Regions from separate parts of the Homo sapiens genome. Here all the other regions are linked to region 1. The links come from fine-mapping of genetic effects on gene expression. A gene starts in region 1. Each other region holds a variant in brackets. All regions are shown on one strand. Distances are between the middles of the regions.

Region 1 (8,110 bases):
CAGAGTTCCATCCAATTCTGATGTCCACAAATGAAGATCCACTAGAACACAGCCAGGTTCATCATATGGATGGCTACTTTGTGCTACACCCTTTCTGTATGTCATGTGAAGCCAATCTAAAATAATTATAATCTGGTTCTTTAAACAAAGAGTTTGCAGACTCCTGCCCTAAAGGACCAGTGTATATAAGGAATTAACTTCTCCCTATACATCTACAATGGAAGCACTGAGAAAACAGGCGCTCAAATTATCTGCTAAATTTTCAGGTATAGATGAGGAATCCTGACTGAGAAAAACTATCTGGCCACTAGGCCCAGCCACTGCAGCTTCCCTGCGGTTCATGACCATGGCCAGTATTCTCCCTTCAAAACTTTTACCTGCTTTCCTCTGGGTTCAGGATGCTTCTCCAAAATATCCTAGGCTTGCTTCCTCACCTCCTTCAAGTCTTTACTCAAAAGTCATCTATCAGGTGGGGCCTTCCCTGACCATCCCACTCAAAACTGCACTCCACTCCCATTCCCCTTTTCTGCTCTATTTTTCTTAATCTTCACATCAACCGATTGAGCACATCAATTAATACTTGCTGGTGACTGAGAGAACGTGAGCTCCAGAGAGGCTGGGATTTTTGTCTGTTGTGTTCACCACACCACTTAGAGGAATGCATGCCATATAGTAGATGCTCAACAACAACAAAAAATCACTGAATTGTATTGAAATACAATAGTCCCCTCTTTTCCAAGGTTTTGCTTTCCATGGTTACCCCATGGTCAGCTTCAGTTGGAAAATATTAAATGAAGAATTCCACAAATAATTCCTAAGTTTTAAATTGTGCACTGTTCTGAGTAGCAGGATAAATTCTCATGCCATCCCATTCCGTCCTGCCCCAGAAGTGAAACACGTCTTTGTCCAGCATATCCATGCTGTCTATCCACCTATTGCCCTCTAGCTTATCAGATCCATTGTGATGCTATCACAGTGCCTGAGTTCGAGTCACCCTTAGTTTACTAATAATGGCCCGAAATCATAAGAGTAGTGAAGCTAGCAATTCAGATACGGCAAAGAGAAGCCATAAGCACTACCCTTAAGTAAAAAGGTGAAAGTTTTTGACTTCTTATGGAAAGAAAAAAAAAACTTATACCGAGGTTACTAAGATCTACAGTACGAACAAATCTTCTATCCATGAAAATGTAAACAAGGAAAAAGAAATTCCTGATCGTCTGCTGTCTTGCCTCAAACTGCAAAAGTTGCGACCACAGTTTTAAATGCTTAGTTAAGGTGGCAACGGTATTACATTTGTGGGTGTAAGAAACGAGCAGACACATGTTCCAATTGACAGCAATTGGGTTTGGTACTACCCACAGTTTCGGGATCCACTGGGGAGTCTTGGAATGTATCCCCTACAGCTAAAGTGGGACTACTGTATATGCAAGGATACACTTCCCCATTAACAGCAACCATGATGCATTATGCCAGCATAATCGACAATACCAACCAAAACTATACAAGGGAATGGAATATTATTTAGTAACCATCCTTAACCAAACTACTGTTTAATAAACTTATTGATTTCATCATTCAGCCTTCAATGAGTCTTAAAAATCAAATGATGCCCACTACCAATGTGAAACAAGGTAAGCCTTCTAATTCGTCTTTCACAGAAGTTAACTTCTACAAAACCTAGTCAGCGTTTATCATATATTGTCCTAAAGCTGAAAACAAAATGAAAAATAAGCCACAGTTATTGCCATCGACAAAATTAAACTCAGCTGGGATTTCAACAGACTATCAAATAATTATAGTAAAATTTGTGTAATAAAAGATGTCGATAAGGAATCACACCTTTTCTGTATTACATCTTTTACTATATTACACAAATTATAGTAAAATTTGTGTAATAAAAGATGTCGATAAGGAAGCAACTCATGATCTGGGAAAGCAAAGGAGGAAATATTTAGGTTTGACTTTATAAAATAAAAAGGCTTTCCAGGCAAAATGCATAATGGGCACCCAGCGATGAAGGCTCAGTAAGCATGTGAAGTGCTACCGAACAACGAAAGGTTCTGGAAGGCAGTGTCCCGAGGGTGTGAGCAGGAAAAGGTACAGGAGATAAAGTGAGGAGTCTGTAAAAATAAACAGAAACTGCAGGAAATGCAAACTCACAGAAGGTTTTAAGTAACCGGACTACTGACAATTTAGGCCTTCCTCTCAGGGTGGAGGCACCGAGGAATATAACCTTGTAGTGCTACACCAAAGGAAGATCCCTGAAGACCAAACGGAAAATAAATTATGTTTGAAGTAAGGCAAGCTAAGTGTTGAAATTCTAGGAGTGAAAATAATTTAAGCTGGAAAGTTCCTGAAAAGCCATTAATAAAATACACTTTCATTTTTCATGGGCCAAAGTTATATAGGGACCTCCAGGTCTCCTTTGCTTGGCTTTTACAATCAAGAAACCCGAAACCGTAAAACTTCATCTCCCTTTAACTCAGATCCCTATCTAAGCATGGGCTAAGGAAACTAGCAAACAAAACAATGTTGTCATAGGACTCAGGAGGCCCCTAAGAGACCACATCAGTCCGACAACCTCCAGGCCTACCTGGGCCCATTGGAGGGGAACGAGAGGGATTCTAGTAGTCGCAAAGAAAGTACCTTGGCTTGTAGGGGCTGTGGCTGCAGATGCCAAGAGCCCCGGATATATGGCAGGCGCGAGGGGACCCAGGTTTAGCGGGCAGGCTGGGCGGGTGCACGGGGCGGATGGGGAACAGGGGCGCTGCGGCACACTCCTAGAACACCCTAGGCCTCCCAGTCCCTGGCCTCCTCCCCCTCATGGTTCCTAGGCCGGCGGCACAACCTACAGCGCACAAGCCCGATCCAACTCTCCAGAGGACGTCAGAACATGAGTAAGTCGGCGCCCTCTTACCCAGACACACAAACAGCACGGACTTGGTAGCCTGTTCCGCCATCTTCCCGCGCGCAGAGGCGCCGAGACACCGCGGCGTTCCGCACGCCGACGCGGCGCAGGCGCACTGCCACCCTCTTGCCCCGCGCGCCTGCGCAGTCCCGCACCAACGCCAACAGGGCAGCGCGTGTGAGAGCCACGCCTGCGCAATCGGCTCCAGTGCGCCTGCGGAGGCGGTCCTATGACGGTAGTAGGACGGGCGGGGAGGGTCCGCGGGTCACCTGCAGGGACTGGGCCGCCGTTCACCTGCAGGGGCGGGGCTGCAGGTTGTCCGGAGGAGGAGGAGCTGCGGGGGTGGGGTCACCTGGAGGGAGTAGGGCCGCGGAAGGCGAGGGGGTGTGTGTGTGTGGTGGCGGGGGTTGGCGGGGGGGAGTCACCTGGAGGGGGCGGGGCTGCGGGTCGCTTGGAGGGGAAGGAGCCGCGGGAGGTAAAGGTTACCTATAGGGGACGGGGCCGCAGGAGAGGGGTACCTGGAGGAGGAAGGGCCGCGGGTCACCTGCAGGGCGGGCTCAGGCCTCGCGGCTCCGCGGGCCGCCCACCTGGGTTGGGGCACAGCGCGAGTCTCGCGCACGTGGCGGGCTGTGGTGCCTGTCGTTCGAGTTCGCATAGAGGGGCTGGGCGGGTCACGCGGGGAACCTGCCTTGAGCCCCGCGGGGTCCACGCCGGACCAGGGCGGCCTTGGGCCTGGGCGCTCCCTGAGACCCCCACCCCCAACACCGTGCTTGGAGCCGCCGCGGGGCTCTGGGCTTTTCGATCTTGAGGACGGGGCGGTTCCGAAGTCCCTGAGGGCGAAGGCCTGAGCGCGGCCCGGCGGGCGCGTGGTTTTTGTCCCGCGAAACGTACACGGCGGGTGTTTTGCGCCGCCTCCTTCGTCACCTGCCGCAGGTACGCCCTCGCTGGGGCCTCCTTGTCCGCGGGGCGGGGCAGCGCGCCTTCCTCTTCCTGGGCAGCCTCGGGACGGGGCGCCGCGGCCGGGCGGGCAGCAGTGAGTACCCGGGGACCCACCTGTCCGGCAGCACCCTCCCCTCTCAAGAGCTGGGCGGTGGTGGGAGGAGGAGGACGGGAAAACCGGCGATGCCTCTGGGGTTTCTAGGTCGCGCGTCTGTTAACCGCAAACCGCCCAAAGTTAAGATAGAGCAGCTTCCAGGACTTTCTTGACCACAGCGATTTTGATTGAAGTTTAGCCACCGTCTTTTCCATTTTTAGAAAAGCTATTCCGAAGTTTGGAATGATGACGATGGTCGTGTTATTTTTAACTTCCTGATATTTGAACGGCGAGGTGTCAGCGACCATCCTTCCGTTCCACAGAAGCGTCTCTGAAGTTTGGGTCGAATGCGCGCGCTTGGAATGTGCGTGGAACCCGCGGCAGGCGCGGGGAGGAGGCCTTGGCTAGGGCGCCGGCGAGGTTCGAGTTTGCCAGCCCCCCAACCTGGAAGAGAAGGGCCAGCCCCTCACACCCGGAAGGGAAGGGCCGGTCCCCCCAACACCTGGCGCCGGGGTCGCGGGGCCACAGGGCGAGCGCGGGGTCGCGGCGAGCACGGGTCCTCTCTGATCGCTGGGCCTTGGCGCTGGCTGCTGAGTTTTTCCTTCTTTAAGGAAGTGTGGAACTGGTCTCAATCGGTTGACCACCTTAAGGAAATAGGATTTACACTGTGGACAGAGATGTGTCCTTTACACTTCATTTGAACCAATATGCCCATGCTCCTGTGGAGGCTGAGTTGGAAAGTGACACGAAGCTGCCCCCCCGCAAGAGAGCAGGTGCTCGGTTTCTCTTCTGCTTACAGGAGATGCATGTCCTGATTTCTTGTTCTCCTAGGTGTTTTTATTGAGATGTAGGGAATATCTGAATTCATAACGACTTAGAAAATCTGTACACACAGTTGAGAGAACAGGTCTCGAGGCTAAGGTGCTGTTTACTCCCGTGGGCTGGCCTGTTATTAAAATACTTGTGCAGCGACTGATGTTTACAAATTACTATGTTGGAGGTTAAAATGATCAAAGTGATAACCTCCATCCTGTCTATCATGTTTGAGGAGAATTGGTTATTTGGTTCACTAATGTTCTGTTTAAAGAAAATTTCTGTAAAACTAGTAAATGTTACCCCTCATCTTTTGTAAGTTAAAAAAAAGTTTAAAATAATGTTTGCTCATCAAAAGTGATTTGATACTTTTGTTCTGTTTAGGAAAACTTTATTCTCAAGAGATTTCTCATTCCGCAGAAATAAGGATCTGGCATGTCAACACAAACATAGGAAGTTGAGGCAGTCAAAGGGAAATAACTGCTACCCTGACTCTGCTGAGAGCCTCACAAGTCCCTGTGCACGCCAGCTTGTTTGCCAGTGAGTGGCGTCATGATAAGACAAAATTCTCTGCTCTGAGACCTAAGCACATGAAGTTTTTAAAAAAATTTTCTCTGAGAAGATCCCATTTTTTACTCTAAAAGATCAGACCAGTGTGGCATGTGTGGAACTGCTCTGTACCAAGATCACACTCTTCAGTTGGAGAAGAGGAAGGGCAGGAATAAATAAAGGGCTTTCCTGTCTCCCGAGGGAGCAGAGAAAGCTTTCGCTGTCCTCTTCCTTCCCCAGCCACAGCCTGGGGTTGGGGGACTGGAAACAAGCTCAGGCTAGCACTTGATGTTCAGACGGTAGTCTGAAAGTTTGACTAGGGAGTTAATGATCTGACCAGAGAGACAGGTTTTTATTTTGAGAACTGACAAGCTTTGTGTCCTTAAAACAAAGGAAGTAGTTAAACCAAGGCCCCAGAAAGGTAAGAATTGACTTAAGAAACAAAGGCCATAGTTGTCAAGCAGTGGAGTTCAAAATGCAGTTTTGTTAATAAAAGTAGCTTAAAGCAACATTTGAAAGCCTCTCTAAAGATTAGATACATACACTTTCTTTTGGCTAAGATTTCTTTAGTTTATTCTAAATATACCTTTAGCAGCATTCAAGTTCCTTTGATCTTAGATGGAATTTTATCAGTTTAATGAGTTAACCTCCATTTCACATAAAGTATAAGGTTTAATAATTTGATTAATATGTAATCAGTAAGAACTTGGAAAACCAAATTTAGTAAGCTTGCTTTCCTGTAAGTATTCCTTTCATAATTAGAGTCCATTGAAGAAAATAATATAAGGGAAGCAAAAGTTTGGGAATCTGAACTCTGGTAAGGAAAGTGGTGGAGAGGGGCCCTTGGGTCTTCTTGCTTTCATTCCTGACCCTCCGTGTACAACTAGATTGGAAACCGTAGTCAGCTTTGTCACCTCAGGTGGCAATTTACTCCGAGTAGGATTCTCATGTCCCTGTTTGTCCCCAGTGACTCTAGCATTGAGTTTATAGAACTGCGATCAATACCTAAAATTATTTCCAGATCTTAAGCTGATTTATGCTTTTGAGGTTTCCAAAGTAAAAATTGTCTTTCCGGTATTTTATAAGACCTTCTAATTTAAAAAAAAAATGTGTTACTATGAAAATTTAAAACATTTTAACTTTTGTTTTAAAGAAAACTTTATTTGAAAGTTTCTTAGCTTGAGGTTTGGCAGCCACTCTTTTTTTAGAAAAAACTTAAATATTTATAGAGATTTTGCCTGATTCAAGGGACTTAAGACGTTTATGAGAGTGCAGATGCTAACCATGATGTGAGGTTTAAGAGGCTTCATTAGTAATGACCTGTGTCTTCATCAGTATGATAGAATGGGACATCAGCACTCTGATCAGGTCATGCTCTATATGCCTTATGGTACAGCAGAGGAAAAATGGGTGAGCCATCATTTGATGCTGAGGATGGGATTTGAGGCTTATGTCTAAATTTTTATTTGCATATTCTTTTTGTTCTGACAGAGAAATTCACTGCATGTAACTATGACCACGCATGATTTTATCAGAAGTTGATTAGAATCTGTAACATTTTCTGTAGTTCAGCTGACACACTGAAGATGTCCTCACTGTGACCAGCCTTGTCAACAGCTGGATCACAGTGACATAAGCTGTGTCTAGGATGAGTCTTGCGGTCTGCAGCCGTGTGAGGCTGCATCTGATTCCCAAGTCCAATGGCTCTCTTCCCGTGTTTACAGATCAGGCCATGACCTTTCCCTACAGCAGGATGTTTGCAAGATTAACTCTCAACTGAGGAATTTGCTTATTTGCTCTAATACTGCTTGGTTGAGAGAGTTCAAAGTAGAAAGTCTTCTGAGGGGATAAGATTCATGTATTATTTACAGTGCTTCAGTTGCATGTATCAGAAAATCTAGTCTAAATTGCTTTAACAGAAAAAGATGTTGCTGGTCCATTTGACGAAGAAGTCCAGAGCGGCTTGTGACTTCAGTCTGGCTTTGCAGAGCCCAGGTGCTCTCTCCACCTTCTGCCAGGTTCCCCTATGAAGGCTTTGCTCTCAGACTCTCCCCTTGTGGAGACAAAAATCCCACAGCAAGTGGAAACAGAAGTGCCTTGGAAAAAGTTATTCTGGCAGCTCCTATACAAGTCCCCCATCAGATGCTGGTATTGGACCAGCTTTGGTTATAAAGCCCTGCTGTGGCACCAAAAGGAATGTCGTCCTGATACAGCAGCCTCGGGTCACCCAATCCACTCCAGATACTATGGCTGCAGCATCAATGTAAGCAGACAAGTTGTGCTGCCTCTGAAATAAAGTAGATGAAATATTCAGCAGCAGAAAGAACAAGTTTCCACTCCAGTGAACTAATTCAAATGTATCCAGCATCTAGATATATGTATAAATGTAATTAAAACATATTGAGCATCTAGAGCATCTCTCCCAAGATAATTACCACCTGATAGTAATGGCTATAAAAGCTAAAAGTGGAATCAGTCTACATGTTTCGCAATAGGAATCAATTGAAGCATACATCAAAATGCAGACAGTAGTATTGGTGAGTATTAATGTTATAGATGCTTTTTATCCTTCATATTTTCATATCTGTACTTTTTCCTGTATTTTACAATGTATTTGTACGTTGTACAAATAATTGCTGATCATGTAAAAATATAGAAATATAGAAATTTTGTTGCCATACTTGGGTCTTTTCCACTATGAAATTGAAAAAAAATTCTATAATTCCTGGTTCTTTTATAATTTGATATTTGACACTCTAAATCTTCAATGAATTTGGAGTTTATCTTTCTGTAACACAAAGCTGTGA
Region 2 (8,110 bases), 130 kb before region 1:
CAACATTGTAAGTTCAAAAGGTGGCACAAGCCACTGAGAAAGGTTTCGAGTGTTAGGTTATATTCGCGGCAGATGTGGGGGTCTCTGGTGAGAGGAGGCCGTGGAGACCCTCAGAGCCTGACTTCACAGGACACGAGGCTCAGTGCAGGGGTCCACAGACCACAGTGAAGGCGAGAGCTGGGACTGCCAGCGAGTCCAGGAGCACAGTGGGTCTGGAGATGAGATGAGGCTGCAAATAAGGAAACTGACAAAGCCATCCAGGCTCCATGGCAACGGCACAGCTTCCGGAAACACGTTTCTTTCTGAATGAGAGGCTGCGGGAGGCAACAGGGAGGAAACCGGAGGTGGAGGCCGCCCCACGCGTCTGCCCAGCACCTCCTGGAGGGTGGATCTCCGAGCTGGGGGCCTCATCTGAAAGGGGCTGGAGTCTTTCACAGTTGGCATGGCAATGAAAAAAGGTATGAAAAGGCAGTTAACACATTTCAGGACAAGCAGATCAGAGCCAGCCCTGCAGGCATCTAGGCAGATGAGTAGGTACTTTTGGAATGTGGAGTTTGAGTGCAGGCTGCATGAGATCGCTTGGGAGCAGGCACCTTCAGCCTGCCGTGAAGTTTGACTGCCTAGTAAGCACATGCCTGCACCCTCAGCCTGTCGTGAAGTTTGAGTGTGTGGTAAGCTCGTGCCTGCACCCTCAGCCCGCCGTGAAGTTTGAGTGTGTGGTAAGCTCGTGCCTGCACCCTCAGCCCGCCGTGAAGTTTGAGTGCGTGGTAAGCACATGCCTGCACCCTCAGCCTGTCGTGAAGTTTGAGTGTGTGGTAAGCACATGCCTGCATCCTCAGCCCGCCCTGAAGTTTCAATGCGTGGTAAGCTCGTGCCTGCACCCTCAGCCCGCCGTGAAGTTTGAGTGCGTGGTAAGCACATGCCTGCACCCTCAGCCTGCCGTGAAGTTTGAGTGCCTGGTAAGCACATGCCTGCACCCTCAGCCTGCCGTGAAGTTTGAGTGCCTGGTAAGCACATGCCTGCATCCTCAGCCCGCCCTGAAGTTTCAATGCGTGGTAAGCACATGCCTGCACCCTCAGCCCACCATGAAGTTTGAATACCTGGTACGCACATGCCTGCACCCTCAGCCCCCCATGAAGTTTGAGTGTGCGGTAAGCACATGCCTGCACCCTCAGCCCACCATGAAGTTTGAATACCTGGTAAGCACGTGCCTGCACCCTCAGCCCACCGTGAAGTTTGAGTGTGTAGTAAGCACCTGCCTGCATCCTCAGCCAGTCGTGAAGTTTGAATGCCTGGTAAGCACGTGCCTGCATCCTCAGCCCGCCCTGAGGTTTGAGTGTGTGGTAAGCACCTGCCTGCACCCTCAGCCTGCCTGTGAGGTTTGAGTGTGTGGTAAGCACATGCCTGCATCCTCAGCCTGCCGTGAGGTTTGAGTGTGTGGTAAGCACATGCCTGCACCCTCACCCCGCCGTGAAGTTTGAGCACACGCTTACCACATGCCAGGTTCTATGTTAGGCTCCAGCTGCCCAAGAGTGAGCAGGGGGAAGCAGCCGCCCTCACGGGACCCAAAGTGTAGCATGAAGGTCAGTTGTGAGCTGGCGTGAATTCGGAAACCAGCTTCCGGAGCATTGAGCGAAGGTTCGCCTTGTGAGCAGCGCACGTCGTCTAGATGCTGCCCGTGGATCTGTGCATTGCGCCTGCGTGCGCCCTTTCCTCTTTGCAGTGACCTGCGTGCGCCCTTTCCTCTTTGCGGTGACCCCACCCGAGAGGCTTTCTCTTCTGTACATCCACGCTTCTCAAGCATGTACCAGTTTTTCCGGCACGTGGGAACTGCAAAGGCTCAAGTATCTTTGTTGGTTGGTTTCTTCAGAACTGAAAGCTGGACATGCTGGGGAGATTGTCTGACTCTTGCCAGTCCTGGTTCTAACTCGGGCTGTGTGGAGCTCCAGGCTCCTGGTTGGCTGTGGAGTCCAAGCCCAGGGCCTCCCACCTCCACCAGCCACAGCCCTGATGGACCCCTGTTCTGTGCTCCTCGTCCTCCCTGCTCTGGGAGGCAGGGACAGCGGAGCCACGCATGATGCCAAGAGCTTCCCTGCTGGCCTAGAGTCACAGACGCTTAGAGGTGGGACGGATAGGCCTCTCGCCTGCAGGTGGGAGACCGAGGTGGAGACAGGGCGAGCACTTGCTCGATTTCTTAACTGACTGATTCCCACCCCCCTTCGCTGTTTCTGGGGATGGTCACTGATGTTTCTTTTTTCACGGCCCATCAGCACAGTGAAGCTGAAATCCCATCCTCCCATCCGTAATCACAGCAGGAAAGGAACAAAAAAGGAATATCCTGGCATCCTGTGGCCTTTCAAAACTGGGTCTGGGTAAAATGGAAATAACTTTTTGATTTTATCTATACAATACCAGGACTTCCTGGGTGTGACAGAGAAGCGTTATGTCAATTATGTGAAAGAGAATTATCCAGGAAGATATCTAGGACTTCTATAGCAACAACTCAGGTTTCTACAGCTCCTGGGTGTCTCAAAATGCTCTCACCTGACTCATCTCCTACCACGCCCACTTTCCCACCCACCTCCCAGCTGTGTATCATCATCTCTAATTTAAAGAAAAAGTACCCCAAAGTGTGAGGGCCTTCCCTCTGCCGCACATCATCGAGAACACCAGGAACAAGCCCAGAATGTTAGACAGCATACAGCGCAGCTGGAACCATCTCTCCACCCACATCACCGAGAACCCAGGATGTTAGACGGCACACAGTGCAGCTGGAACCATCTCTCCACCCACATCACCGAGAACACCAGGAACAAGCCCAGAATGTTAGACGGCACACAGCGCAGCTGGAACCATCTCTCCACCCACATCACCGAGAACACCAGGAACAAGCCCAGAATGTTAGACGGCACACAGTGCAGCTGGAACCATCTCTCCACCCATATCACTGAGAACACCAGGAACAAGCCCAGAATGTTAGACGGTACACAGTGCAGCTGGAACCATCTCTCCATCCACATCACCGAGAACGCCAGGAACAAGCCCAGAATGTTAGACGGCACACAGTGCAGCTGGAACCATCTCTCCACCCACATCACTGAGAACACCAGGAACAAGCCCAGGATGTTAGACGGCACACCGTGCAGCTGGAACCATCTCTCCACCCACATCACTGAGAACCCAAAATGTTAGACAGCACACAGCACAGCTGGAATTATCTCTACATCTCAGGAACACCTCGGGGGTGGCCGTCGCTTACTGGAGCATTCACCTGCAAGACTCCACAGGGCCACTGAGGACTCGACTCAGTTCCACTGCTGATGAGAGTGGCGTTCTTCCGTCTGAAATCAGGCATCCATCCCTGCCCCACGACGACAAGCACGGAAGTCCTGGCAGCCCTGGCACCGGCTCTCGCCTGAAACCCTCACAGAGCCGGCTCTGGAATGCTGCTCTGTACTGCACCCTCCAGTTAATCCCATTCCCAACACATGTCCAGGAAAGATGATAAACAAAGTGAATATCCATGCAAAAGAGATCACTTAAAGGTCTATTTAAATTGTGTGCTCTTCTCTTTTATTTTCCTTCATATGTGATCTTTCCCCTAGTCATACAGAAATAGCCATTTGCTCAGGGAGATGTGATTGTCAGGGTGGAAATGCAAATTAAAGGAAGAGGCATCACTGCCGCCCTGACTGACGGAACGAGATAACTGAGTTCCCACCAAAACACGTGTAAAATCATGGCTGTAAGGAGAAAAGTAAGTGGATAAATAAGTACTTGTATGAACTCACACACACACATACACACGCATGTACATATACACATACATATGTACTATCTAAATCCCTTGAACACCCACACACACATACACACACGTGTACATATACATACGTACTGTCTAAATCCCTTAAACACACACACACAAGCACATGTACATATACATATGTACTGTCTAAATCCCTTAAACATGCACACACACACGCACGTGTACATATAGGTATGTACTGTCTAAATCCCTTAAACATGCACACACACGTGTACATATACGTATGTACTGTCTAAATCCCTTAAACATGCACACACACATACACACATGTGTACATATACGTATGTACTGTCTAAATCCCTTAAACACGCACACACACATACGCACATGTGTACATATACGTATATACTGTCTAAATCCCTTAAACACGCACACACACATACGCATGTGTGCATATACATATGTACTGTCTAAATCCCTTAAACACGCACACACATACACACATGTGTACATATACGTATGTACTGTTTAAATCCCTTACACACACATACGCATGTGTACATATACGTATGTACTGTCTAAATCCCTTAAACACGCACACACACATACGCACATGTGTACATATACGTATGTACTGTCTAAATCCTTAAACACGCACACACACATACGCACATGTGTACATATACGTATGTACTGTCTAAATCCCTTAAACACACACACGTGTACATATACATATGTACTGTCTAAAGCCCTTACACACACACACGTACATGTACATATATGTATGTACTAAATCCCTTAAACACGCACACACATATGCACGTGCACATATACGTATGTATTGTCTAAATCCCTTAAACACGCACACACACATATGCACATGTGTACATATACGTATGTAGTCTAAATCCCTTAAAC[ACG/G]CACACACACATACACACACGTGTACATATACGTATGTACTGTCTAAATCCCTTACACACACATATGCATGTGTACATATACGTATGTACTGTCTAAATCCCTTAAACACGCACACACACATACGCACATGTGTACATATACGTATGTACTGTCTAAATCCCTTAAACACGCACACACACACGCACATGTGTACATATACGTATGTACTGTCTAAATCCCTTAAACACGCACACACACGTACACACATGTGTACATATGCGTATGTACTGTCTAAATCCCTTAAACACGCACACACACATACGCACGTGTACATATACGTATGTACTGTCTAAATCCCCTAAACGCGCACACACATACGCACATGTGTACATATACGTATGTACTGTCTAAATCCCTTAAACACGCACACACACATACACACGTGTACATATACGTATGTACTGTGTAAATCCCCTAAACACGCACACACACATACGCATGTGTACATATACGTATGTACTGTCTAAATCCCTTAAACGCGCGCACACACATACGCACGTGTACATATACGTATGTACTGTCTAAATCCCCTAAACGCGCACACACATACGCACGTGTACATATACGTATGTACTGTCTAAATCCCTTAAACATGCACACACACATACGCACGTGTACATATATGTATGTACTGTGTAAATCCCCTAAACACGCACACACACATACGCATGTGTACATATACGTATGTACTGTCTAAATCCCTTAAACGCGCACACACATATGCACGTGTACATATACGTATGTACTGTCTAAATCCCTTAAACACGCGCACACACATATGCACGTGTACATACACGTATGTACTGTGTAAATCCCTTAAACACGCACACACACATACGCACGTGTACATATACGTATGTACTGTCTAAATCCCCTAAACACGCACACACACATACGCACGTGTACATATACGTATGTACTGTCTAAATCCCTTACACACACATACGCACGTGTACATATACGTATGTACTGTCTAAATCCCTTACACACACATACGCACGTGTACATATACGTATGTACTGTCTAAATCCCTTAAACACACACACACACATACGCACGTGTACATATATGTATGTACTGTCTAAATCCCTTAAACTTCTCTTGACATACCAAGAGCCAGGCCTGGAGGAGTTTTCACAAAGTCCTGGGTGGAAAACTGGGGATGTGATCAAGGAAGTGTCCTGCCCAGAAAGTCCCTGATGGAGAAAGATGGAGATGGACGTCTGGAGTGAAAGAAGGTGGGACAAGGAGCTCACAAGCCGGGTCTTTTCTTTCCTGATGCTAAGGACGGAATCTAAAGGCAGAGCATTCAGAGCAGGGCCTCGGAGCGGCTGCGGGTGCCTTGTGGGTGCCTGTCGGCCAAGCCACAGCCCCGGCTCAGACCTGCAGCCGCCTCTGAGTCAGCATTCCTAAGTAAGTCAGGGGGTTCCAGTGGAGACCACGTGCAGTGGCTGAGGAGGCCGTCTGGGGTGTCGAGGCTTTGCTCCAGAGGGTCCCCAGCCAGAGGCAGTGGCAGGAGCACAGTGTGCTCAGCCCCCAATGGTGCCCACCTGCCAGGAGCCACCAGATTTCAGAGACCAGATCCCGGCCTCCACGGCCAGCCCAGACCCCGGCCTCCACGGCCAGCCACAGACCATCCCAGGACCCCCTCTCGCCCGCAGCAGGGAAGAAGGAGCTGCAAGAGGTGGAGTATTCGCCCCTGGAAGCTGAGTCCGCCTGAAACTCAAAGAACCTGAAATCCTCGTAGTAGCTTCTGTCTCCTCCAGCTGCAGCCAGTGTGTGAGGAGGAGTCAAGCACAGAAAAGCAAAGAATACATGAGGAAGCCGACCATAAAATTATAAAAACTTGGATTCTTCTTCCTCTCAATGAAGGCTTAACACCTATGTGACAATAGGGAGTTATGCTTATAATCGAGTTATAAACATGAAAAGCAGATAGGTAGTCGCCTGTATGTTATAGAGATGACTATACAGATATGTAAGTGTAGAGAAGAAATTTAAAAATTACACTGAAATATTCGCGACGGTTGAATTATGATGTTTGTATTGTTCAAGGTGATTTCATCTTTTTTTCTATTTTGTATAGTTTTTATAATATGAAAATAACATTTCTTTGAGTCTGCATTTTCTCCTGAAAATCAGTTTCATATACATAAAGTTAATTTTGCTTTCCTCCCAGAAGTTGTCTTGCTATTTAGACTTATGATCAGCTATTTCCTCCATCTCAGACAGGGACATTCACAGAAAAATATTAAGAAATTTGACTGATTACCTTGGTGTGCTGGACAAGTCAGAAAAACCCTTTGGCTATAATAAAATACTTTGTTTTATTCAGTTGTAGGTGATAGTTGGTCTAGAATTTTTTCTTTTTAAACATATTTTGAATTTTACTGAAAACTCCTAGGAATACACAGTTAATGTTGAGTAGGGGAGCTACACAAGGATGTAAAATTTAACCAAATCATCTGATTGTGAATTCAAAAATTAAAAACTTACCATGGGTCCCATGAGGAGCCAATTCCACTCCATAGTCTGAATTTTCTAAATAGGAAACTGACAAGTCGGGTAAAGTGATTGCAGTTGTCCTGATCTTGTTGATATTAGTTTCAAAAAATCACTGTTTGGAGAAAGTGAAGGGGGGAAAAGCTGGAGTGGATGCAGAGAGCGGTGAGGGGGGCAGAAGCCCAGGACAGAGAAGGGAGCAGGGCAGAGGCGACAGGGGAGAGGGGAGAGGGAGAAGGCAGAGGGGAGAGGACAGAAGGGAGAGCGCAGAGGGCAGAGGGGAGAGGGCAGAGAGCAGAGGGCAGAGGGCAGAGGGGAGAGGGCAGAGGGGAGAGGGCAGAGGGCAGAGGGCAGAGGGGAGAGGGCAGAGGGCAGAGGGGAGAGGGGAGAGGGGAGCGGGCAGAGGGGAGAGGGGAGAGGGGAGCGGGCAGACGGGAGCGGGCAGAGGGCAGAACCTGGCTCCTGCTCTCAGGTAAGTGGTGAGCAGTGGGGCGCCTGCAGGGAGACCCCTCTTGCTGATTTGCAGGATGGAGTGAAGGCCACTCAGAGCCACCCCAGGACAGAGGACAGGAGTCTGAACCGCCCCCCATGGAAGGGGAGCCAGGGAATGGGGAGGAGTTGGGCACAGCATGGGGGACCTGGGGCCTCAAGCACAAAGCCCTCAAATCTCCTCTCATGAGGTCAGCCATGAGGAGACATGTTCTAATGATTCGTTCTTGTCAAGGTAAAGGTATTGCTGAAGAATTTAATATAAGAATAAAACTGAAGTTCAGAAAAGGGAACAGGTCCAGCTCTGAGAGCTGCTGTTCTGAATCCAGTGAGCCTTGTGTCTGTCAAAATTAGGAGACATTGCTTCTTTTTCCTATGACGACTGCACGGAGC
Region 3 (8,110 bases), 130 kb after region 1:
TGTGACATCATAGCAAGAGGCTTAGCTTTTTCAGAATAGGAAAGGACCCGTAGTCTGAACCCCCAAACAACCCCCAAACTGGCAGAGTTTGTGTATATGTGTTAGATAGTGTGTGCTTAAGATAGGCTGACTTCAGGATAGAACCGGTTTTCATCTGCCAGCCTAAAACAAATGTCCCAAATTCCTGACTTCACTTTGATAATACTGCAATTTATTTAGAGAAGCAAAATTTTTATTAAATTGAAAGTATCTTGTTTGTAAGCACATACAGTGTTAACAGCTATTAATAAATCGCTCACATGTTGAATTAGTATGAATTAAAGGTGGGGAAAAGTTCTCTTAGTTCTCTTGTGAATGTCTAGAAAGTATAGCAGGCAAATCTGAGGATCCGTCACCACAAATGCGGAAGAAAGAAGATTCCAGGGGCACTCAAAGAAGAGCCTGGTACCTCAGTGAAAAGTACAGAAAAGACGCAGAATGCAGCCCCATATGGAACAATAGGAATCAGAGCAGCCTCAACCTCACGTATTTCTCGCAGAGCTTGTACAAATCTACGGGCAATTTCTTGCCCAGTTTTCATTCTTTTTCCCAGGTAATTTGGGAATATAAAAAGGAAAATGCGCCTCTCTTGACTATGCTCTGTTTTTCTAACTCTCTGAGTTTTTTATTCCTTGTATTTGAGCTAGAATGAGAGGATGTTGATTTACACATGTCCATAATGTTTTTGTTTTGTTTTAAGCTGTGAAAAGGGGATGATCTCCATCTGTTTGTGCTGCTATAACCAAATACCTGAACCTTGGTAATTTATAAATAGTAGGAATTTATTTCTCACAGTCCTGGAGACTGGGAGTCTGAGATCAAGGCTTGGCAAGGTCAGAACCTGGTGAAACTGCTCTCTGCTTCCAAGGTGGCACCATGACAAGCGCTGTGTCCTCAGAGGGGACGAGTGCTTCATCCTCACATGGTGGTAGGGCCAGAAGGGCAAAAAGGTGGAATGCTGTGTGAAGCTTCTTTCACAAGGGCCTTAATTCTATCGTGAGGGAGGAGCCTTATCACCTCATCACCTCCTAAAGGTCCCGCCTCTTAAAACCTCGACATCGGAAATGAAGCTTCAACACACATTTTGAAGGGGACACAAACATTCAAACCAGAGCAGGATTCAATTTCTTTTACTAACCCATATTATTTGTTCCTTGAGCCCTTCTAATTTGAGATGCTTTTATTTTATTTTAATTTTTAAAATAAATTTTATTGTGTATATTTAAGATGTAAAACATGATGCTTTAAGATACATATATATACATATATACAGTAAAATGGTTATTATAGTGAAGCAGATTAACACATCCATCATCTCACATAGTTACCCATTTTTGTTTTTGTTTTTGTTTTGTGGTAATAGCAACTAAAATCAACTCATTTATCAGGAATTCCAAATACAGCACAATTTTTTTTAACACTAGTCCTCATGTTGTACATGAGATCTCTGGACTTGTTTATCCCACACACCTGCTACTTTGTACCTTCTGACCTATATCTTCCCATCCCCCACCCTCTCCAGTCCCCCTGGTAACCCTGTTTCATTCGCTGTCTTTGTTTACCTGTTTTTTTAAAAGATTCAATATGTAAGTGAGATCATGGAATATTTTTCATTCTTTGTCTGGCTTGTTTCACTTTGCATAGTGTCCTCCAGGTTCATGCATGTTGTGGCAAATGGCAAGATCTCCTTCTTTTTAAAGGCTGAACAGCAAAAAACACAATCAACAAAATAAAATGGCAACCTACAGATTTGGAAACAAAATCCAATATTTATAAAGAACTCATACAATTCCATATTAAAAAAACAAACAACCGAATTAAAAAAATGGACAAGGGACCTACATAGCCACTTCTCCAAAGAAGACGTTAAAAGTGGCCAACAGGTATATGAAAATGTGCTCAATGTTATCAGTCACCAGGAAAATGTGAATTAAAGCCACTGTGAAATGTCTCACATCTGTAAGCATGGCTACTATCAAAAAGTCAGGAGATAATAAGTGTTGGTGAGGGTATGTAGAAAAGGGGATGCTTGTACTCTGTTAGTGGAAATGTAGATTGCCACAGCCATTATGCAAAACAGTATGGAGGCTCCTAAGGAAATTTTAAAAAGAACTACATTATGGCCTAGCAATCTCTCCTCTGGGCATATAGTCAGAGAAAGTGACCTTGTGAAAATGTCGGCAGTCTCAGTTCATTGCAGCATTATTCACAATAGTCAAGATATGGGAAAAACCTAAGTATCTATTTGATGAACAAATAGATAATGATAGTTCTTTTATTTTAGAAAGTGCTTATTTACCAACTCCTTGCCTCCTGGGAGCTCTGAAAACACTCCATCTACAGTATGGAGAATCTACTTGTTGAGAAACCTCAGAGAAGAAAGAACAGGGAGAAGGTTGTCTAGAGGTACCCAAAAGTTGGATGTTTTCCTAGGTTGACGTAAAATGATAACCGTCTGTAGAAATTGTGGAGTGTGTGCCTTCAGTGTTCACAAGAAAGATCAGGACAAGCTTAAAGTGGGAAAAGAAAGAGACACATAAATGCCTCCCACCCTCAGCTCTGAGGTTACTTTCCACAATTTTCCAATTACTTTTTGTCCAATTTCCTTAGGCAAAAATCTCTTGGAGATGACGGTAAAGCTTTAGAGTTAGCTTGTATCTCTCAACTCTTCTTGACCCTCGTTTAGCATTCATTTTTCCTCCACTGTCCTGATTTCTTACAACAGTAACATATTGACTTTCCATTACGGGGTTCCTTCTTGTCTGGTGGTGGCCCCAGATAAGGGTTTATTCCCTTTGTGAATAATTCTAACTGGGAAATCTTAAGGGCTATTTTTTTGTCTTCTTTATCTTTCTCCATATTTTCCCAAACTTGGGCTACTTCCCTCAAAACGTGAGAAATTATTCTTGCCACCCAACTACATTTTCCCTTATTTGCTCTCTTGAATTCTCTGCAACAAAGCTGCCACAGAAGTGGAGAGGATCAGGAGCCCGGACCCCCTGAGACATGCCTTGGACTTAGGAAAGGTGAACAGCTGGTGAAAACTCACGGGCCTCATGTGGCTAAGAAGCGTGGCACTGTGGCTTCTCCCAGTCCACCTTCAGTGGAGAGGCTTCAGGAACTGCCCTCGGTGGCCCCTCATGCTGAGCATTCCAGGCACAGCAAGCAGCCTGAGTTGCTGGAGCAGCAAGCAGTTATCCTCCTGGAGCCCGGCATGGCAGAGTGAAGCACGCCTTCCAGGAGAGGGACCCGCTGACAGCATTCCAGAGTTTTCAGAACATTTTACCATTAAAGCCAACAGCAAACCACACAGGGCCTTTCAGCCACATTACCAATTTTACTCAATGGTAACTCAAAACTTCTAGTGAGAGTTTGGGATTTTCCCTGGGAACCCAATTCCACTGAACCAAAGTAGTTGAAGAAACACTTTTTAGCAAATAGTCCCTTATTTGATTAAAGATGGCTACAAATACTCCAAGAAATGTGCCCAGTGGAGGGCTTAGTTGAGGGATCCCATCCTTATAACCAAATTTTTGGGAGGAAAAAAAGGGAAATCTCTACCCAGAGGAACATACCACTTTGTGTAGAATAACCTTTTTTCTTTTTAGTAGACTATTAGTCCATGCTCACATTGCTATAAAGAAATACCTGAAACTGGGTAATTTATAAAGAAGATTTTTTTTCTTTTTTTTGAAACAGTCTAGCTGTGTTGCCCAGGCTGGAGTTCAGTGGTGTGATCTCAGCATCATAGCTCACTGCAGCCTTCACTTCCCAGGTTCAAGAGATTCTCATGCCTCAGCCACTCAAATAGCTAAAGGCGTGCGCCACTACACCTGGTTAATTTTAGTGTTTTTAGTAGAGACGGGGTTTTGCCATGATGTCCAGGCTGGTCTTGAACTCCTGGCCTCAAGTGATTCGCCTGCCTCAGCCTCCCAAAGTGCTGGGATTACAGGTGTGAGCCACCACGCCCAGTCTGTAAAGAAGAGATTTAATTGGCTCACGGTTCTGCAGGCTGTACAGGAAGCACAGTGGCATCTGGGGAGGACTCAAGAAGCTTCTAGTCATGGCAGAAGGTGAAGAGGAAGCAGGCACATCTACATGGCAGAGCAGGAGGAAGGGAGGAGGGTGCTAAACACTTTTAAATAACCAGATCTCATGAGAACTCACTCACTGTACAGTACCAAGGGGATGTACTAAACCATTCATGAGAACGCCGTCCCCATGATCCGATCACCTTCCACCAGGCCCTACCTCCCACACTGGGGATTACAATTCAATGTGAGTTTTGGGTGGGGACAGAGATTCAAACCATATCAGTAGGCTTTATTTCTTAGAGCAGTTTTAGGTTCACAGCAAAATTGAGCAGAAGGTACAGAGATGTCCCATATACTCTTAGCCCCACCTGTGTGTAACACTCCCACCCCCATTATCAACAT[C/A]ACCCACTAGAGTGGTGCATTTTCTTACAATTGATGAGCCTGCATTGCCACCTCATTAATCACCTAAAGTCCATAGTTTATATTAGTGCTCATTCTTGTTACTGTGTATTCTATGTGTTTTGACACATGTACGATGACACGTTTCCACCATCATAGCATCATATGGAATAGTTTCACTGCCCTAAAAATCCTCTGCACTCGGCCTATTCATCCCCGCCTTCACCCAATTTCTAGAAACCACTGATATTTTCACAGTCTCCATAGTTTTGCATTTTCCAGAGTGTCACAGAGTTGGAATTCTACAACATGTAGCCTTTTCAGATTGGCTTCTTTCATGTAGTAGCATGTAAGTTTCCTCCATAGCTCGATAGCTCCTTCCTTTTTACTGATGAACAATATTCCATTGTCTGGATGTACCACAGTATATTTATCCATTAATCTACTGAAGGACATCTTGGTTCCATCTAAGTTTTGGTGATTATGAGTAAAAGTTTTTATTATTGGGGAAAAAAATCCCTGAATGTATGCAGTTATCCAGCAAGTAGTTACAAAGCTACTGTGAATTTTCAGCTCATTTATATGAATAAAACCTACGGTTGTTATACATCACCCTTCTTTTAGTAAACAGTCAGAAGATATTCAGTTTGCACCAATAATTCCATTGAGCTTACTTTGCAATTATTTTCCAACTAATTCTTTACTAGTACTTCCAATGAGTGATTTAGCACATACGATTAATCACACCCTTTAACATGCCTCAGCAATATTAGATTAAATTCACTTTCCCACGTTTCCTAGAAATCTTTTTTTTATGTAGAATTACTGCATCTTTACGTACTGGCTTTACACTTTTTTCTCATCCTTTCCATCTGTTTGCACTGCTTTCTGGATAATCTTTCCTCTCAACCAAAATCTTTCAGGTTACTAATCACTCTCTATATCCAATCAGTTGTGCTGTTCAGAGTTGTGTTTTTTAAATGCTATTTTTATTGAAGTATAATATACACATATGACACGCACAAATCATATTACGCTGAGTGTACAGCTCAGTGAAATATCACTAAGTGAAACATCTTTAAGTACAACCAAGATCAAGAAACAGAATATTTCCCAGTACCCAGAAACCCTATTTTTCCTCTTCACAGTTACCTCCCACACTTCCAGTTTCCTGAAGACAATACCATTCCGGTTAGAATATATTAGTGCTGCCAAGTTTTTGCACTGTGTATAAATGGAATCATAATTGTCCTTTCTTTCCTGACTGGTTTCCCTCAATCTTACTTTTGTGAGATTCAGCCACGTTGTTGTGTGTGGTAGTAGTTTACACTGGCTACTTTTATGTTGTGGTTGGGTTCCTCCAGCCCTAAGGGGGACTCCTCAGGCTCTAGCTGGAGACAACCATGGTAGAGACTTTTCCCATTGGCAAGCATGCTCACTCCTCCAGTAACTCACCCTGCAGTAGACTTTGCCCATTACAATTATAAAAAACACACCCCTAGGTGGAGGTTTTAAATGCTAATGAGACATTTCATGTGTGTACTAGCATGTACAGCCATAGAGCATGTGGAACCACCTAATACATGATTGCAAGTGACAGCCCCTCACATCCCTTCATGAATAATCATGTAAGATCCTCATAAAGAGAGTCCCCAGCACTGGCTGCTGCTGGCTCACTCCCTCTCTCCAGCAACCTGCTCTGCCTTGTCATTCAGTGTGTGCTCTCCCTTTAAATAAACCTCGCTGCTGCCGCTGCTTTCCAGTCAGGCCAGCCCACTCCCTTCTTGAACTGTCCTCTATCTTCCCTCAAGAAACTCTGCTGCTTAACCCTTGCTGTGCATCTCTTGGCTGAATTCTTTCTTCCAAGAAGGCAAGAGCCACAGACCCTGCACCCCTCCCAGTAACATTTGTACGGTATTCTACTGTGCAAATTTATAATAATTTTTCCATTCCACTGTTAATGGACATTTGAATGGTTTCTATTTTTGCTGTTTCTAATAATAGAGCCATCAGCATATGTGCTTTTCTTGTAGGTATATCTAAGAGTAGGAATCCTTGGATCACAAGATACATCCATTTTGTTTAGTTGTTCTTTCCTTACACTATATTTCTTTTAAAATCAAATGCTGTGTGCTTTTTATCTTTCAGAAATTCTTCTAATTTTTTGCTGATTACATTCTTTCTTGTCTTTTTTTTTTTTCCTTTTTTGTGACAGTGTCTCACCCTGTTGCCCAGGCTGGAGTGCACTGAGTGATCTCAGCTCACTGCATCCACCACCTCCTGAGTTCAGTGGATCCTCCCACCTAAGCCTCCTGTGCGGTTGGGACTACAGGCATACGCCACCATGCCAGGATAATTTTTAAAACTTTTTGGAGAAACAAGGTCTCACTGTATTGCCCAAGCTGGTCTCAAAGTCCTGGGCTCAAGTGATCCTCCTGCCTTAGCCTCCTAAAGTCCTGGGGTTACAGATGTGAGTCATCATGCCCAGCCATTAATTATTATCATTTTATTACATCTTTTCTATAATTTCAAGGACTTGGAAGTAGAAAGAGTTAAGAATAGGAATGTTAAATCTTCTGTTTTTATATCAAATCCAAACCACTTTAGATTTCCACCAAAATGAGAAGGCATGGAATTATTACTCTGATTGGCTCAGGAATGAGATGGAGTTTCACTCTTGTTGCCCAGGCTGGAGTGCAATGGGGCGATCTTGGCTCACTGCAACCTCTGACTCCTGGGTTCGTGTGATTCACCTGCCTCAGCCTCCTGAGTAGCTGGGATTACAGACATGTGCCACCATGCCCAGCTAATTTTGTAGTTTTAGTAGAGATGAGGTTTCTCCATGTTGGTCAGGCTGGTCTCGAACTCCTGATTTCAGGTGATCCCCTCGCCTTGGCCTCCCAAAGTGCTGGGATTACAGGCACGAGCCACCGCGCCTGGCAGATTTGGTTTTCTAATGAGCTAAAAGTCTCTCCCTGGCATCTCTCTTGAGTAAAGTCTGTTCATTGGGTTGTGAGTCTCCTTGTAGATTTCTTTACTTCCACACTGTGCTGGCTGGCACCATGGCTGGCTGTGTGAATGAAGGTGCTGCCCCCAGCTGTGTCTCTCTATCCCAAGCACGTTCCATCCACTCTCCTCAAGGCTCGCTTTTTCTCTGTAGGGTTACTGCTCCCCTTTCTGTGGGAAATCTTGCTAACCAAGATTGAAATGGACTCCTCCATTGTTCGGCACCATCAAGTTTGCCCCAAACAGCTAATAAGTAACAGTAGGATTTTCCTATTCATGTATTTTATGTTTTGTGTATTTTAGACATAAAATACATGAATAGGAAACTTGAGATTTTACAACATTATGAATATTGAAAGTTTCAACTCCCTCACTTCCTCAAAAGACTAAAGAAACTGCAACGCTTTACTGTGATAATTACAATGAGGACAAAGCATCATGGCTGTCATAATCAACTAAAAACCCCTGCTGCCGCTTTGCACTTCTCAGTGTGAGGCACAATTTCTGCTTGCTGTCCTCATCTCAGGGGTCCCTAGTCTAACAATGCCTCAATCCAGTTGACACCCATTTATCTTCCTCAACAAGATAAACATAGTGAGATGTTCAGTCCAGGCAGACTAGGTGCATTGCCC
Region 4 (8,110 bases), 46 kb after region 1:
ACTCAGTGGGGTTTGCTTCCCGGTAACCAGGAAGGTTTTTCTTCATGGAAGGAATCATTACTTGACTCACCTTTTATTGGTGAATTCTTTGTGGGCATTAAACTTCTCCTTGTGAAAATTATCTCTAATATTTACATTAAAGAGGAACTTTAAGTCATTTGGAGTTTTTCAAAGAAAAAAACTAACAGGGCACAGCACTAACTGGCTTGTGGATTGTTATCTGAGAAAGCAGATAGGCTCCTGGATCTGCTGGCCTCACTCTTGTGATTTTCATGTGGATGGAGTTTCTCCAACAACAGCTCAACTCCTGACTCTCTTGTACTCCTCCCCAGGAGGCAGAGGCATTTGTGGTCAATTGGGTGAGGAATTGGGCACAAGGAACAGTCAACACACATCTTAGCCTCAGTAAAGGAGAAATGTGAGATCCCGGCCCCCTCAGACCTTCAGTGGTGGCCTTCCCTTCAGCTGCACCTGAAAACCACCCACGTTGCTCCTCTACCCTCCTCTCTCACTCTGCTTTATCCTCATTTCATTTGGAATCTGCAATTCAGAGAAAATTAGACCAACACCTGATTGTGAGGGCAGGGACCAAACCAGGTGTGTGATCTCGCCTTCTTTCTCTTTCTTAGTTCATAATATATTTATTTCTCTAATTATTCCTCATAAAATATATTCCTGAAACTGCTTAGAACCAATTCAGTTATCAGGGATTACCCAGAACCATAGCATCAGATGCTGTTATTTGTACAGTCTGGAAACCCAGTGAGGCAGGTCACCACATTAATCCCCCTTGAACATTTGCCTCATAAAAGTAAAATGCTCCGATAAATGTCAGTTTGGTCTGTTGAGCACAATTTCATATTTATGAGGTTGTTGAGGGTCTTGGATGACCTGGAGACAAGCTTCATTCCTGACCTTGGACAAATTACTTGTTATCTCTGAAGCTCAGTTTCAAATTCTGTGATGTGGGATAGGAGTAGCTGGCTCATTGCAGTGGGCGGTGTAAGAGGAGCACATGTGTGTGCCTGAGCAGTTCGCGGTGGCTGCTCTTCCCAGATGCACATCGATTGCTGTTATCATTGTTGTCGTCCTTATTATGCATTTTTGATTTTATAAATGAGACTGCAAGTGTATAAATGCATGGTAGCTAAGATGGCTGTGGCTCCCAGAACATTCCCTGATGTTCACAAGCACTCTTTTAATTCACTTCTTCCTATTATCTAACGTGTCTGGGAGACAAGAGGGAGGAGAACAGAGTTCCTGGAGGTTCTTCACTGATTTGTTCTGGTTAATTAAGATTCAGCTTTATATGTGGATATCCTAAATATAATCATGAATAAGAGATTTCCAGGATGGATTTTTCTTTAGCATTAGCTTGCATCCTGATCTGATGACAGGGAAGCACGGCGTGAGCGCCTGCCCGGTACCCCACCCAGGGCAGAGCACAGCTCCTTTCACAGTGCATGGCAGCGACTGCTCATTAACGTGTAGAATTTAATCGTGTACTTAGAACGTTTAACTTAACTTCTGTTGTTTCTAGACTATGTCAAAATTTTATTTTGGTGACATTCTTTTATCCTTATTCCTTAAAATTGTTAACTAAAAGTAAATATAGGACAAAATAAAATATACAGAAATTCTTTTTATTATAGAAAAAAGTAGTTATACCAGTATTATCTCTAGTGTAATTATTATTAGGATTATTTCTTTAGAACTCAACTAAATGGCACATACTTTAAAGAAAGAATGGTAGCACCATCTTGTGAGAGCTACAAATTCAGTGTTTTAGTCAGAGTAGTTTAAAGTGTTGACTATTTTTATTTCTTATGGGTGGACCAAATTCACTTTATTATTATTATTATTATTATTATTGTATTATGGGTTCAAATAGGACCTGGCTCTAGAGTCTGGTTATTGATGTTTTCTGTATGTCTGTACATCTAGTTGCCTAATTTATGCACAGAATTATATGAAGCATAGAAGCATCAGACTCCATGTAGCTGAGTGCTCAAAAACTGTTTAATTATATTTTTATGATGTTATGTGGTTTATAATATTTAATGTCCTTTATTCATGTTAACTGCTCAGTTCTCAAAGTATTTTCTTCCTTCTGCAATACATGGATATACACATTGCATTGAAGTACTTGTGAAACATGTAGAAATGCTCCTACCTGTGCTAATTCCAACTTATCTCTGATATTGAGAGGATGGATCAATTAAGCACAGAAATGTAAACAGCCACAAAGCCCAGGGAGAAGAAATGTCTGCTGAGGAAACAGCAAAATATAACTGGGCTGCAATCTTCAAGCCCAGTGAGTAAAGAGCCAGGTTTTAAAGTTGAATCTCCTAGGGTTTGATATAAGCTCACATATCTGCCTTTCTCCAGCATCTGCCATCCATGAAACTGTCACACTATCTTGGCCCCTTCCAGCTGCTGTAACAAAACACCATAGTCTGGGCAGCTCATAGACAATGGAATTTTATTTCTCACGCTTCTGGAGGCTGGATTCCAAGATCAAGGTTCCAGGAGACTCAGTGTCTGGCAAGGTCTCGGTTTCTGCCTCAGAGATGGTGCCATCTGGCTGTGTCCTCACAAGGAGGAAGGTGCAAGAAGCTCCCCTCAGGCTCTGTCTGTAAGACACTGATCCCATTCATGAGGGGGAAACGTAATGACCTAATCAGCCCCCAGAGACCCCACTTCTAACACCATCACCTTGGGGTTGAGGATTTCAACACTTGAATCTCAGGGGGACACAGACATTCAGACCACAGCAATGACTATATTAAAATAGAAAAAATGTAAGTTGTATTATCTCATAGATTATTCAAAATTTAGACGATTGTAACCAGAAGCATGTGCTAAATCCTTAGGTATAGAATGTGCAGAGAAAAATAAGTTTAATAATGTGATGAAAATTACACAGACTGTTGTGGTTTCTGCCAGCCTCCAAGACATCAGCATGCCAAGCCCTAAGTGGTTAATTTTTATCTTACCAGCAGATACCCCCAATTTCTCCCTTAAAGAACATAAACGTGAATACTTTTTTCTTGTTTCAGGCAATTTGAATCAACCCATAGAAGTGACAGCGCTGTATTCATTTGAAGGACAGCAGCCTGGGGATTTGAATTTTCAAGCTGGAGACAGAATCACAGTTATATCAAAAACAGATTCACATTTTGATTGGTGGGAAGGAAAACTTCGAGGTCAAACTGGCATTTTTCCAGCCAACTACGTAACCATGAATTAAAGCGTATACTATTTTCTTCTTTGAGAATTACAAAAAAATTATTTCTACACTGACAGGATTTACTAGTTAAGCAATGTTTAATATAAATTTTAAAAAACTTCTGTTCTACAAAATTTCCATTCCGTATGTAAAAGATTTTGTTTTTCTATATAAAAAGAGCTGACTGACATATCTTTAAATACTTTGTACTAACTTTATCACACTTACTGTGTCATAGAATATCATACAGTTTATACGCTCATAGTTCTCTTGTGAACACTTCAAACATCGCTAAGCATTTGATCTGGCCATGTATATGGTAGCTGTGTTTTAATTTGAGAATCTTGAGGGTAGAGCCACAAATTTCAATTCTTACATTTCCATTTGCAAAGTGACTAGAGAAAAAGAAATCAGCTTAAATGAGGTATTAAGTAATGTTTAGAGTCGTAGGTATTAACTAGAATATAAATCCTTAGAAATTGTCTTTATACCTTCAAAAATTATACTATGCATTTATCATAGAAATGTGATTACAAAGAAGTCTGACTACCATGTCTTTAAACATATGGCATCTCTCAACTTTTCTTCCTTATGGGGCTACATTTGTTCATTTCCAGCAGTAGCATAAACTTACGGTGACATGGTAGACTTGTCTCTAAATAAAATTTTTAAATGTTTACTAAGTTAATATTTCAATTTTGTTTTTCTTATTTTTTTTGTAAGGTAGGCAGAAGTCCTATGTCTCATATGCAGGGTGAAATCCACCTCCGTTCTGGGCTGCCTGAGCTCCTTCCTGAACTCTAGACTCCCCTCTCCAGCTATGCACTTTACAGCTCCGTTTGGACAAGGAACAACACCTCAGCCTTCACGGGCTCAAATCCAAGCTCTTCTTTCTCCTCACTTAGCCTGCCCCTCCCACAGTGTTCCTCTTCAGTAAATGGAAATTCCATCCTTGGATTTCCTTGGTCCTCAGGGTGACTTCAGAGCCAACTTTCGTTCTTCTATCTCATGCCCTCTATTAAATCCACCAGAGATTCTGTTGCCTTTCAGACACTCGCTGACCCAATATTTGC[G/T]CTCCCCCATGCCCACCCTGAAGCGAGCTGCCCGCTCAGCCCCAGCTCCCGCGTAGACTCCTTGCTTCAGCCCTGGCTTCACCCAGCAAACCCTCCTGAGAGGAGCAGGTGCACATTGCACTGTTTGTCCTGCTATTTGCTCCTCACTGCCTTACGTCATACACACACCCGTGCATTTGCCTTTTTATTGATTATACCTTCTTAAGACATGGAGAAGGAGAATGAAGACACATGTTATCTTCACCCAGAGAGAAGCAAAACAGTTATTTCCTACTTTCTAAGCCCTTTCCAATCACTGCTGTCTCAAAGGGAATCATCACCCTGAGTCTGCTGTTTTTAATTCCATAATTTTCTTTACATTTTTACTACGTATGTTTGTGTCCTTAAGCACTATATGGTATTTCCTTCCATGCATTTAAACTTACAAAATTTAAAGTTTTAAACTTATAGAAGATACAATAAATTCACTCATTTACAATGGACTTATTGTAAAGAAACTATGCTCTATACGTTCAACGAATTAAAAGGTGGAGAACTTCAGCAGAAATTTGACACTATAAGAGGGAACTAAATGAAAAACATGAGACTGAAAAGTAAAATAAACTTAAGAAGATAATAAATGGATTTAACAATCATTTAGACACAGCAGAAAAAAGAATCATTGACCTGAAAGCAGATCAGAAACATACATCCAGACTGAGAGTTGACTGAAAATACTAGAAAAACCAAAAGAAACTGGGATAAGGCAAGAAGGTACAGAAAATGAGTAGCGAAGGTTCTGGTCAAAAAGTGGAGAGAAAAATCAGGCAGATGCTCTACATGAAGATAGAATGCCAGAGCATATTCCAAAACTTTAAAAAGACGTTGAGCTACAGATTTCAGAATTACTATGAACAAACAGAATAAACACATGAACAAGCAGAATACTATGAACAAGCAGAATAAACACAAGGAGAGTCACATATGGGCACATCATTATAAAACTGCCAAAAACTGCAAAGATAAATCTAAGAAGTAGATGAGAGGTTGATTAATGGGTAAAAATGCACACTTAGAAAAAAATAAGACCAGGTGTCTTATAGATCATTAGGGTGACTACAGTTGACATTAATGGATTATACATTTCAAAACAGCTAGAAGAGAATAATTTGAATGTTCTTAGTATAAAGGAAAGATAAATATTCAAGGTGTTGAATATCCCAGTGACCCTGATTTGATTATACAAATGCATCAGATTATCACATGTATATCAAAAACATGTACATCTATTAAATATCAATTTTTAAATGTAGATGAGAACTGTTATAAATCACTAAAATGATAACAATCAAAAAATGGACCAAAGATTTCATTGATTTCACCAATGAAAATATACGGATACCAAGTAAGGACAGGAAAAGATGCCCAATTATCTTTAACAATTAAGGAAAGCAAACGGGAACTGAGAGTGAGATGTTGCCACCAACCTCTAAATGGCTAAAATGAAAACAACTGACGCTATCAAGTGTGAATGAGGATATGGAGCTCTGGAAACTCCCATGCAGTGTGGCTGGAAATGCAAAATTGCATGGTTACTTTGGTGTGGCAGTTTAACTTCTAGCCCAGAGATTTCATTCCTGGGTATTTGTCCAGGAGAAATAACAATACATGTCCACATAAAGTATTATATGATGTTCATAAGAGCTTGATTCATAATGACCCCAGACTGGAAACACTCCAAATGTCCATCATCTGTTGAGTGGATGAAAAGCATCATGTTCCATCTATACCGTGGAACACTACTCAGCATAAGGAATGGATCTTGATACATCAACAACATGGTGCATCTTCAGAGCATTTTGCTTCGTGTCGGAAGTCAGACACTGAAGACATAAATCCACTTACATAAAATTGTTGAAAAGGCAAAATTATAATAATGAAAAGCAGATAAATATTTGCCAGGCGCCAGAGGTTGAAGGAAGAGCTTGACTGCCAAGGTTGACAAGGGCACATCTTATGATGTTAAATTTAATAAATCTAAAACAAATACATAATGCATGTGGCTGTCAGTGGGCCTGTTAATATTTAGCAAGCTAAAGTATATTAGACAAACAAAGAAATATTAAAAAAACAGATTAACACACCCCTCAGCATACTGTAGATCAAGCATATAAAAACATAAATATATATACTATATAAAAATAAAAGGTATCTAATGATTTGAGACTGTACCCTGAAATTAGACTGCCTATTTATATCAAGTATCCACAGAACACTCCCAAAAGTTGACCATAATGCCACAAAGAAAACTTCTTTTATGCCATGATAAGAAATAGTATAGATAACATTTCCTGGCTCTGTACTACAAATAAGAAAATCCGTACTAGCTTGAAAACTTCAAACTCTTAGTAACTCAGGGTATATATGTGTGTGTGTGTGTGTGTGTGTGTGTAGAGTGAGTTTGTGTGTATACACACACAACACACAAAAAATCCTAATCAAATAAAATAGAAATGACTATGTTGCTTAATCCTTTTCAATTAAATTCAAAAATATAAAAAGTCAGCTTCGTAATATTAAAATTGTTTCAGAGGATAGCAAAATAATTTCCAAATACTTCAATGATCTGAGCCTACTACTAATAACAAAACACATCTCAGATTAAATCTTTTAAAAAACAAAAGTCCAATCTCATTCCTAAACATTGTTACAAAAATCCTAGCAACACAGTGACGTGATAGAGACCAGGTGTAAACTCTAGGCTTGTTCAGTATTAGGACATCTATGATCACTCATCCTCTTAAATGGTCTCACAATAAAAATAAGATCATCCCCATCTATCCTGAAGAGGCATCTGACAAAATTCAAACCCCATTTTTTTTTTTTTTTTGAGATGGAGTCTTGCTCTGTGGCCCAGGCTGGAGTGCAGTGGGGCAGAGCCACGGACGTTCACAAAGATGCCGATTAAATTTTAACAACGACTCCCCAAATGTTTCTAATATCACCAAACCACTTCCTTCCACAGATGTCTTAATTTTGTTTAAATGTGGTATTTCCTAACTGCTTCCAAGAAAGTTAAAATGAGGCCACAGGGATTTTCTGACATCTCCAACAGAGGAAAGCTGTTGTTAGCAGGAGCAGCCCGGTGCCTGTTCGCAGGGGCAGCTCAGTGCAGGCCGAGCAGCCCGGTGCCTGTTGGCAGAAGCAGCCCGGTGTCTGTTGGCAGGGGCAGCCCGGTGCCTGTTGGCAGGGGCAGCCCGGTGCCTGTTGGCAGGGGCAGCCCGGTGCCTGTTGGCAGGGGCAGCCCGGTGCCTGTTGGCAGGGGCAGCCCGGTGCCTGTTGGCAGGGGCAGCCCAGCGCAGGCCGAGCAGCTGCACTATGCGCTCTCCGAAGAGCCACTGACTTTGCACAGCAAACGTCAGATACGCTGCCTGGAAATGGGGCAGTTTTAAATCCACTGCTACAGAGAGTGTGTTGGGCGGTCCACACTTCCGAAAAGTCTGAAATGTGAATCCCGGCCTTGAGTCAGTTTCCCGCTTACTTTTGGCGTGGCGTCGTGGGCGGACCACGGGATCTGGAGCGGTCAGTCCGAGGCCCGTTCGGCTCCCGCTGCGCAAACGGGGAGATTCACGCTGCCTCAACCCCAGCCTCGTCTGTAAAGCACCCACATGCTGGGATTCCCAGGGGCCTCGGGGGGAAGGAGGCCGAGCGTCCCCGCTTTGTGCGTGCTCCTAATTCTTCCCTGGGTAACACGAACGTTTCCACGCGAGCTTGATGCCCACAGGGTGCATACCAATTTCCATGAAAAGGTAACCTGGACATTTTTTTT

Evidence for each region.
Region 2: its variant is fine-mapped to the expression of SH3YL1 in tibial artery (GTEx, PIP 0.95).
Region 3: its variant is fine-mapped to the expression of SH3YL1 in tibial nerve (GTEx, PIP 0.96).
Region 4: its variant is fine-mapped to the expression of SH3YL1 in whole blood (TOPMed, PIP 0.99).

What each region holds. Positions count from the first base shown.
Region 1 is chr2:259,815-267,924 of GRCh38, reverse strand. It overlaps SH3YL1 (SH3 and SYLF domain containing 1), which reads left to right and starts at 3,893. Exons shown (of 10, transcript NM_015677.4): 1 at 3,893-3,941. The coding sequence starts at 3,941. ACP1 (acid phosphatase 1) reads right to left here and starts at 2,978. Exons shown (of 6, transcript NM_004300.4): 1 at 2,918-2,978. The coding sequence starts at 2,960. RefSeq lists an enhancer at 2,868-2,917 and silencers at 3,268-3,347, 3,418-3,997.
Region 2 is chr2:386,324-394,433 of GRCh38, reverse strand. LOC105373351 (a long non-coding RNA gene) reads right to left here. Exons shown (of 3, transcript XR_922703.3): 3 at 7,157-7,343. Among named protein-coding and RNA genes, the nearest start is that of LINC01865, 74 kb to the right of the region's middle. RefSeq lists an enhancer at 96-795. The variant ACG/G (reference allele first, on the strand shown) is at 4,685.
Region 3 is chr2:131,952-140,061 of GRCh38, reverse strand. No RefSeq gene overlaps it. Among named protein-coding and RNA genes, the nearest start is that of FAM110C, 90 kb to the right of the region's middle. The variant C/A (reference allele first, on the strand shown) is at 4,476.
Region 4 is chr2:213,951-222,060 of GRCh38, reverse strand. It overlaps SH3YL1 (SH3 and SYLF domain containing 1), which reads left to right. Exons shown (of 10, transcript NM_015677.4): 10 at 3,060-3,917. The coding sequence ends at 3,250. Among named protein-coding and RNA genes, the nearest start is that of SH3YL1, 46 kb to the left of the region's middle. The variant G/T (reference allele first, on the strand shown) is at 4,303.